Linked DNA regions of Homo sapiens. The protein of the gene in region 2 interacts with the protein of the main gene of each other region in a pairwise test. Each region holds a gene or a part of one and is shown on either strand. Other genes may lie near its edges. The genes, in order: OLFM4 and CCNB1IP1.

Region 1 (3,833 bases), on a different chromosome or scaffold from region 2:
CATAGACAAAAATGTTATGCAGCAAATGACTGTATTTTCCAGAAGAAGAAAAAAATGCAGAAAGTGCCCCAAGTGCCAGATGTGGGACTGGAGGCTCCCAGGCAGGCTGGGCTGCCTCTCCCAAGACTGCACCTCCCAGGAGGAGCTGACATGTGGTCAGCATTGTCCACGCATTCCCAAAGCTACAGATTCATATATGTGAAAAGTTCATATGAATGATTTACTTAAATTAGTAAAGTTCACACTCTGAAGTCTTTCTGGCCCATCCCCAAGCTCTTTTGTGTCTTCTCTAACTCCATGGATGATTGCCATTTTCCTGAACACCACTGAGCATCCTTTAAGTGTCAGCTGAAGAACCTTGAGTTTTTTCCTCAAATGGATCTTTACAGACCCTTCATTTTGTCTGCACCAGGGCAGGCACACCACACATTTTTATAGGTAACAAACTCCAGAATATGCCTTGCTTTTTTTTGTGAAAATCTAGGAGAACCACATTTTATTTAGCAGAGATGACAGTTGAATCACTCATTTTTGTAGAACAACAGCTGCGATGTGCCACCAAAATGTTCCAGAGAAGCTGAGGGTGTTTCATTTGTTCCAAGAGCTGGCAAGGCCAAATGCCAACAAGCATATTTATTTCTCAAACTTCCATTTCTGTAATGGATTGGCACTTTATTTATTTTTATCATAGTCAAGGTTTTATGCCTGAGTTTTGTAGACACTGGAACCTGGCAGCCCTATATCTGCAGTGCACTTCTCAGGGGGACTTGTTAGGTTTTATATATAGTGAGCCCTCCATAGCCTTGGTTCCGCATCTGCAGATATAACCAAACTCAGATTGAAAAATTTCACGGAAAAAAACTAATAAAAATAACCATGTAACAACAGGAACTATACAAATAAAAAACAATACAACAATGATTTATATAGCATTTACATTGTTTTAGGTATTATAAGTAATCTAGACTTGATTTAAAGTATTTGGGAGGATGTGTGTAGATTGTAGGCAAATACTGTACCATTTTCTGTCAGAGTCTTAAGCATCCTTGAATTTTGTTATTCTTGGGAGGTTCTGAAACCAATCCACCATGGATACTAAGAGGTGGCCGTATATATGTTTTAACCTCCCTATCCACCAAAATATCACCAGCTTTGTCATCCTCCGAGTTATGGTACATCCAATGGCAGTGAGCATCAGTTGCCCGAGGAGATACACTAGCAGTGCCAAGGACTGTTTTTTCGACTTTCATTAAAATCCTTTTTGCCTGAAGCCCTAGCCCTTCAGGTCTGTGGTCTATGAGTCTACTTTAATTTGCACAATGGGGTTAAGTGGAAGGGCTGAAATGACAGAAGTTAGGATTGCTTTTGGTATAAGAAGGATTAAAGGCCAACATCTGGCTCTAAATTCATCCAGGCACTGTGGATCAGCTACTTGATATTAGTGTAGTTTTGGGAAAAGTATCACTTCAGTTCAAATTTTTAAAAAGCATATAAAGCCAGCAACTTATTTAATGAGCAGGTCCTTAAAAAAGCCATGGCATTTTCTTTAGAGATCAGACACAGAAAGAACCACCAACTGTGTTTATTAAAATATCCACTTGGATATTCCAATTATACACTAAACTGCCAAGGGAATTTTTGGAAGTATTTTAACTTAATGATCAGACATTCAAATATATGCAACAAATCTGTAATTTAAAGGTCTGATTGCAATAATCAGTTCTTGGAATAAATGTGGGTGCACTTAATGAAATGTGTACTCTACAGGGCACACACACTCACATATTGTGTAGTAGGTTGGATCTCTATGCCACTTTGTAAAAGGCAGAGGGGATCAAAACTAATTGTATATGGCGATCAAAGAAGGAATTCGGCATAGCGCATTTCTCCCTTCTCCAGAAAATACTTAGATGTAGAGCCATGTTTCTAAATGGAAGGAGGGTGGTGTTGGCCGTGGCAACGATTTTGTCCCCAGGGAACATTTAGCAATGCCCAGAGACATTTTTGGTTATCATAACTGGAGAGTGGTTGGATGCAACTGGCATGAAGAAGCCAGGGATGCTGCTTAATATTGTGTAATTCACAGCACAACCCCCACAAGAAATGACAATCCAGTCCCAAATGCTAACAGTGCTGAGGTTGAGAAACAATTAGAGTAAGTGTGTTGAAGGGAGGAGAGATGGCAAGAGACTATGATACAAACCAGTTTAGTTTGGGGAGTTAATGTCTTCAAACATTAAAATGGAGATTAAGAAAAAAGGGCTCAATATCACTTGATCATTAGAGAAATGCAAATCAAAGCCATAGTAAGATACCATCTCATACCAGTCCAGAATGGCTATCATTAAAAAGTAAAAAAATAACAGATGCTGGTGAGATGGCAGAGGAAAGGGAACATTTATACACTGTTGGTGGGAGTGTAAATTAGTTCAGCCATTGTGGAAAGCAGTGTGGTGACTCGAAGAACTAAAAAGAACTATTATTCAACCTAGCAATCCCTTTACTGGGTATATGCCCAAAGGAATATAAATTGTTCTACCATAAAGATACATGGGCGTGTGTGTACATTGCAGTACTATTCACAATAGCAAAGACATGAAATCAACCTAAATGCTCATCAATGGTACACTGGATAAAGAAAATATGGGCCATATACACCATGGAATACTTTGCAACCATAAGAAAGAATGAGATCATGTTCTTTGTAGGAACATGGATAGAGAGCTGGAAGCCATTCTCCGAAGCAAATTAACACAAGAACAGAAAACCAAATACCACATGTTCTCACATATAAATGAGAGCTAAATGATGAGAACACATGGACACAAAGAGGAGAACAACAGAAGCGTACTTGAGGGTGGAGGGTGAAAGGAGGGAGAGGAACAACAACAAAAAAATCTATTGGGTGCTAGGTTTAGTACCTGCGAGACAAAATAACCTTTACAACAAACCCCCATGACATGAGTTTACCTATATAACAAACCTGGGTATATACCCCTGAGCCTAAAACCTTTTTAAAAAATGGAGATTAAAATATACCTGCAAATGATGATGCTGAAGCAAAATTATGTTTAGCCTAGCAAAGTATAAAATCTACCTCCCTTCAATTGGAGTAATAAGTTCTTTGTATATGGATAGATTTTAAAAATCTAGTTAAATGTATTTTTGATCTATTTATTTACAAAACACAATGATTGGCAAGAATCAAATAGTTCTCAACTCAAGGGCTCGGTAGTGGAAGAAGATGGTGTGATACTACTCAGGGAATTGGCTTGAACCTTTTGATTTTCTTTCAGGTGAGGGAATATGTCCAATTAATTAGTGTGTATGAAAAGAAACTGTTAAACCTAACTGTCCGAATTGACATCATGGAGAAGGATACCATTTCTTACACTGAACTGGACTTCGAGCTGATCAAGGTAGAAGTGAAGGAGATGGAAAAACTGGTCATACAGCTGAAGGAGAGTTTTGGTGGAAGCTCAGAAATTGTTGACCAGCTGGAGGTGGAGGTAAGGAGTGAACTCACTTCTTGGTAAATTAATAATAAACTCCCTTCAGTGACTGTAAGCAAGTACTAGTACCAGGAAGTGAAACTATCTCTTCCAACTTCTAATTCTCTACTGTCTCATGGCCACATGGCATATCACTATGTTCTGTTTTGGATAAGGGCATGTGTTTGAATAGTAAGTTAAGCACATTGGGAATGTGCTGACTTAGGAGCAGATGTTGTCTAATGGTCAGAATCCTGCCCCAGAATAAAATGCCCTTTCAACTTCTCTGAAAAGGAGCTGGCATAAAGTTGAACAACGGTTCATGGCCAAGCTATATGAGGT
Region 2 (3,038 bases):
TGAAGACATGCTGCTTTGTAATTATCGAAAGTGTCGCATCAAACTCTCTGGCTATGCATGGGTCACTGCCTGCTCTCACATCTTCTGTGATCAGCATGGCAGTGGTGAGTTTAGTCGCTCACCAGCTATCTGTCCTGCCTGCAACAGTACCCTTTCTGGAAAGCTAGATATTGTCCGCACAGAACTCAGTCCATCAGAGGAATATAAAGCTATGGTATTGGCAGGACTGCGACCAGAGATCGTGTTGGACATTAGCTCCCGAGCGCTGGCCTTCTGGACATATCAGGTTAGTGCTTAGTCTAGTTTCTCTTGAGCATGTGATTTATGGCATTTGTGGGAACTTCTAGTGTCTTTCCTTCATTGTATTATTATTAATTTTTTATGAGTATATGAGAAACTCTTTTTATTAAATTGTTTTCAAAAGCAATACTGTTTATTGTTGAAAATCAAAAGGAAGAAAATTAAAGCACTCATAATTCCATCACTCAGAGATAACCATTGTTTATATTTTGGGTATACACACACACACACTCACACACTCTCTCTCTCTTCTGTATAAAAGTAAGATAACACACACACTTTTATTGTTAAGAGTTGACAGTATATTATATCTGGTATGAATTTTTCTTCCTTTTGAGACGGGGTTTTCTTGTGTTGCCCAGGCTAGTCTCTAACTCCTGGGTTCAAGCCATTCTCCCGCCTCAGCCTCCTGAGTAGCCTGTGCTTCACTTGGTATGAATATCTTGTTAAATATTTTTTAGTTAACTATTCTATAATCATATTTTAATGGTTATATTGTATCATAATTTATTTCCAAGTTATTAAAATGCTATGATAAGCATTCTTATCAAATACGCATCCTTAACTTTTTCCCTTTATGATTTCTACTTTTAGTATTTCCTTTGAAAGACCTCCCTGTGGATGACTTTAAGCATGTCCTTGAATGTATTGTTATATCTTACATATACACTTATACTTCTTAAGGATGTTTGTCATCTGTCAAGTAACTTTTTATTATATTTTTCTGGGTAAGTTGTTTCTCTTACATGCTCCTCTATTTTTCAACTCCTTTGGTTAAATACCAAATAGTGTTTTTGCTGGCTTATGTGGTGAGAGTATGTTTATTTTTGTAAGCAACTGCCAAATTGTCTTCCAAAGTGGCTATACCATTTTATATTGCCAGCAGCAATGAATGAGAATTCCTGTTGCTCCACATCTTTGCCAGAAGTTGGTATTGTCCATGTTCTGGGTCTTGGCCATTTTAATAGGTGTATAGTGGTGTCTCATTTTAATTTGCATGTCTCTGATGACATATGATGTGGAGCATCTTTTCATATGCTTTTTTGCCTTTTTTTTTTTTTTTTTTTTTTTTTTTTGGTGAGGTGTATATGAAGTTCTTGGTCTTTTTTTTTTTTTTTTTTTGAGACGGAGTCTCGCTTTGTTGTCCAGGCTGGAGTGCAGTGGCGCGATCTCAGCTCACTGCAAGCTCTGCCTCCCGGGTTCACGCCATTCTCCTGCCTCAGCCTCCCGAGTAGCTGGGACTACAGGCGCCCGCCACCACGCCCGGCTAATTTTTTGTATTTTTAGTAGAGGCGGGGTTTCACCGTGTTAGCCAGGATGGTCTCGATCTCCTGACCTCATGATCCGCCCACCTCTGCCTCCCAAAGTGCTGGGATTACAGGCATGAGCCACCGCGCCCGGCCGAGTTCTTGGTCTATTTTTAAATTGTTTTCTTATTGTTGAGTTTTAAGTGTTCTTTTTATCCTTACTGTTGAGTTTGAAGTATTCTTTGATCCTTTATCAGAGCTATCTTTTGCAAATATACTCTCCTGATCTGTGGCTTGTCTTTTTATTCTCTTACAGGGTCTTTCACAGAGCAGAGATTTTTAAGTTTAATGAAGTCCTGCTTATCAATTTTCTCTTTCACGGATTATACCTTTGGTGTATTTTAAAAGTCACTGCCAAATCCAAGATCCACCTGGATTTTACCCTATGTTATCTTCTGGGAGTTTCATAGTTTTGCATTTTATGTTTAAGTCTGTGAACCATTTTGAGTTTATTTTTGTGAAAAGTATAAGATCTGTCTAGATTCATTGGGTCCTCAATTTTTTGCTGGCTATTGGCCAGAGGCTGTTCTTAGTTACTTGTCTCTTGGGCCTTCCTGACATGACTGCTTGCTTCCTCAAAGCCAGCAAGGGAGTGTGTCTCCTAGTAAGACAGACCTTATAGTCTTAGGTAATATACTTATGAAGTGACAACCTGTCACATTTTCTGTAGTATTCTAGTCACAGGTCCTGCCCACGTGCAAGGGGATAGGGAGTTACACAAGGGTGTATGTACCAGGAGACGATAATTTGTGGTTGTCTTAGAGTCTATTCTTCATGCTCTGGATTACTTGAAAAATGGGATTATATTTCTTAAAAACCTTTGGAAAACATGTCACTTGTTAAGACAAATACTCAGTTCTTTTGGTGGTATAAAGTTAGTGGTTTGAGAGTATTCTTCCAGACTTTTTTTCTATGCATTTAGTAACATAACTTATTGTTTTCTGTGCCTCATTGTGTATCCTGATTGCTTCTTAAACTGGGTTCTAAATGATAAAATAACATCCCTATATAAGCATCTTTCTTTTCCTTTTGTGTTTGTATAACATTTTACAATATATAACTTTGTACCCAATACCTTAAAAATCTTTTTTCTTTTGGAACCAGGTACATCAGGAACGTCTCTATCAAGAATACAATTTCAGCAAGGCTGAGGGCCATCTGAAACAGATGGAGAAGATATATACTCAGCAAATACAAAGCAAGGATGTAGAATTGACCTCTATGAAAGGGGAGGTTACCTCCATGAAGAAAGTACTAGAAGAATACAAGAAAAAGTTCAGTGACATCTCTGAGAAACTTATGGAGCGCAATCGTCAGTATCAAAAGCTCCAAGGCCTCTATGATAGCCTTAGGCTACGAAACATCACTATTGCTAACCATGAAGGCACCCTTGAACCATCCATGATTGCACAGTCTGGTGTTCTTGGCTTC

The links.
Region 1: the proteins of CCNB1IP1 (region 2) and OLFM4 interact in a two-hybrid assay, tested with the Homo sapiens proteins (one large-scale study listed by BioGRID).

The regions. Positions count from the first base shown.
Region 1 is NC_000013.11:53,038,614-53,042,446, forward strand, and holds part of OLFM4 (olfactomedin-4 precursor), read left to right. Parts: intron 1-3,296; coding exon 3,297-3,509; intron 3,510-3,833. UniProt on the Homo sapiens protein: May promote proliferation of pancreatic cancer cells by favoring the transition from the S to G2/M phase. In myeloid leukemic cell lines, inhibits cell growth and induces cell differentiation and apoptosis.
Region 2 is NC_000014.9:20,313,475-20,316,512, reverse strand, and holds part of CCNB1IP1 (E3 ubiquitin-protein ligase CCNB1IP1), read left to right. Parts: coding exon 1-286; intron 287-2,711; coding exon 2,712-3,038. UniProt on the Homo sapiens protein: Ubiquitin E3 ligase that acts as a limiting factor for crossing-over during meiosis: required during zygonema to limit the colocalization of RNF212 with MutS-gamma-associated recombination sites and thereby establish early differentiation of crossover and non-crossover sites.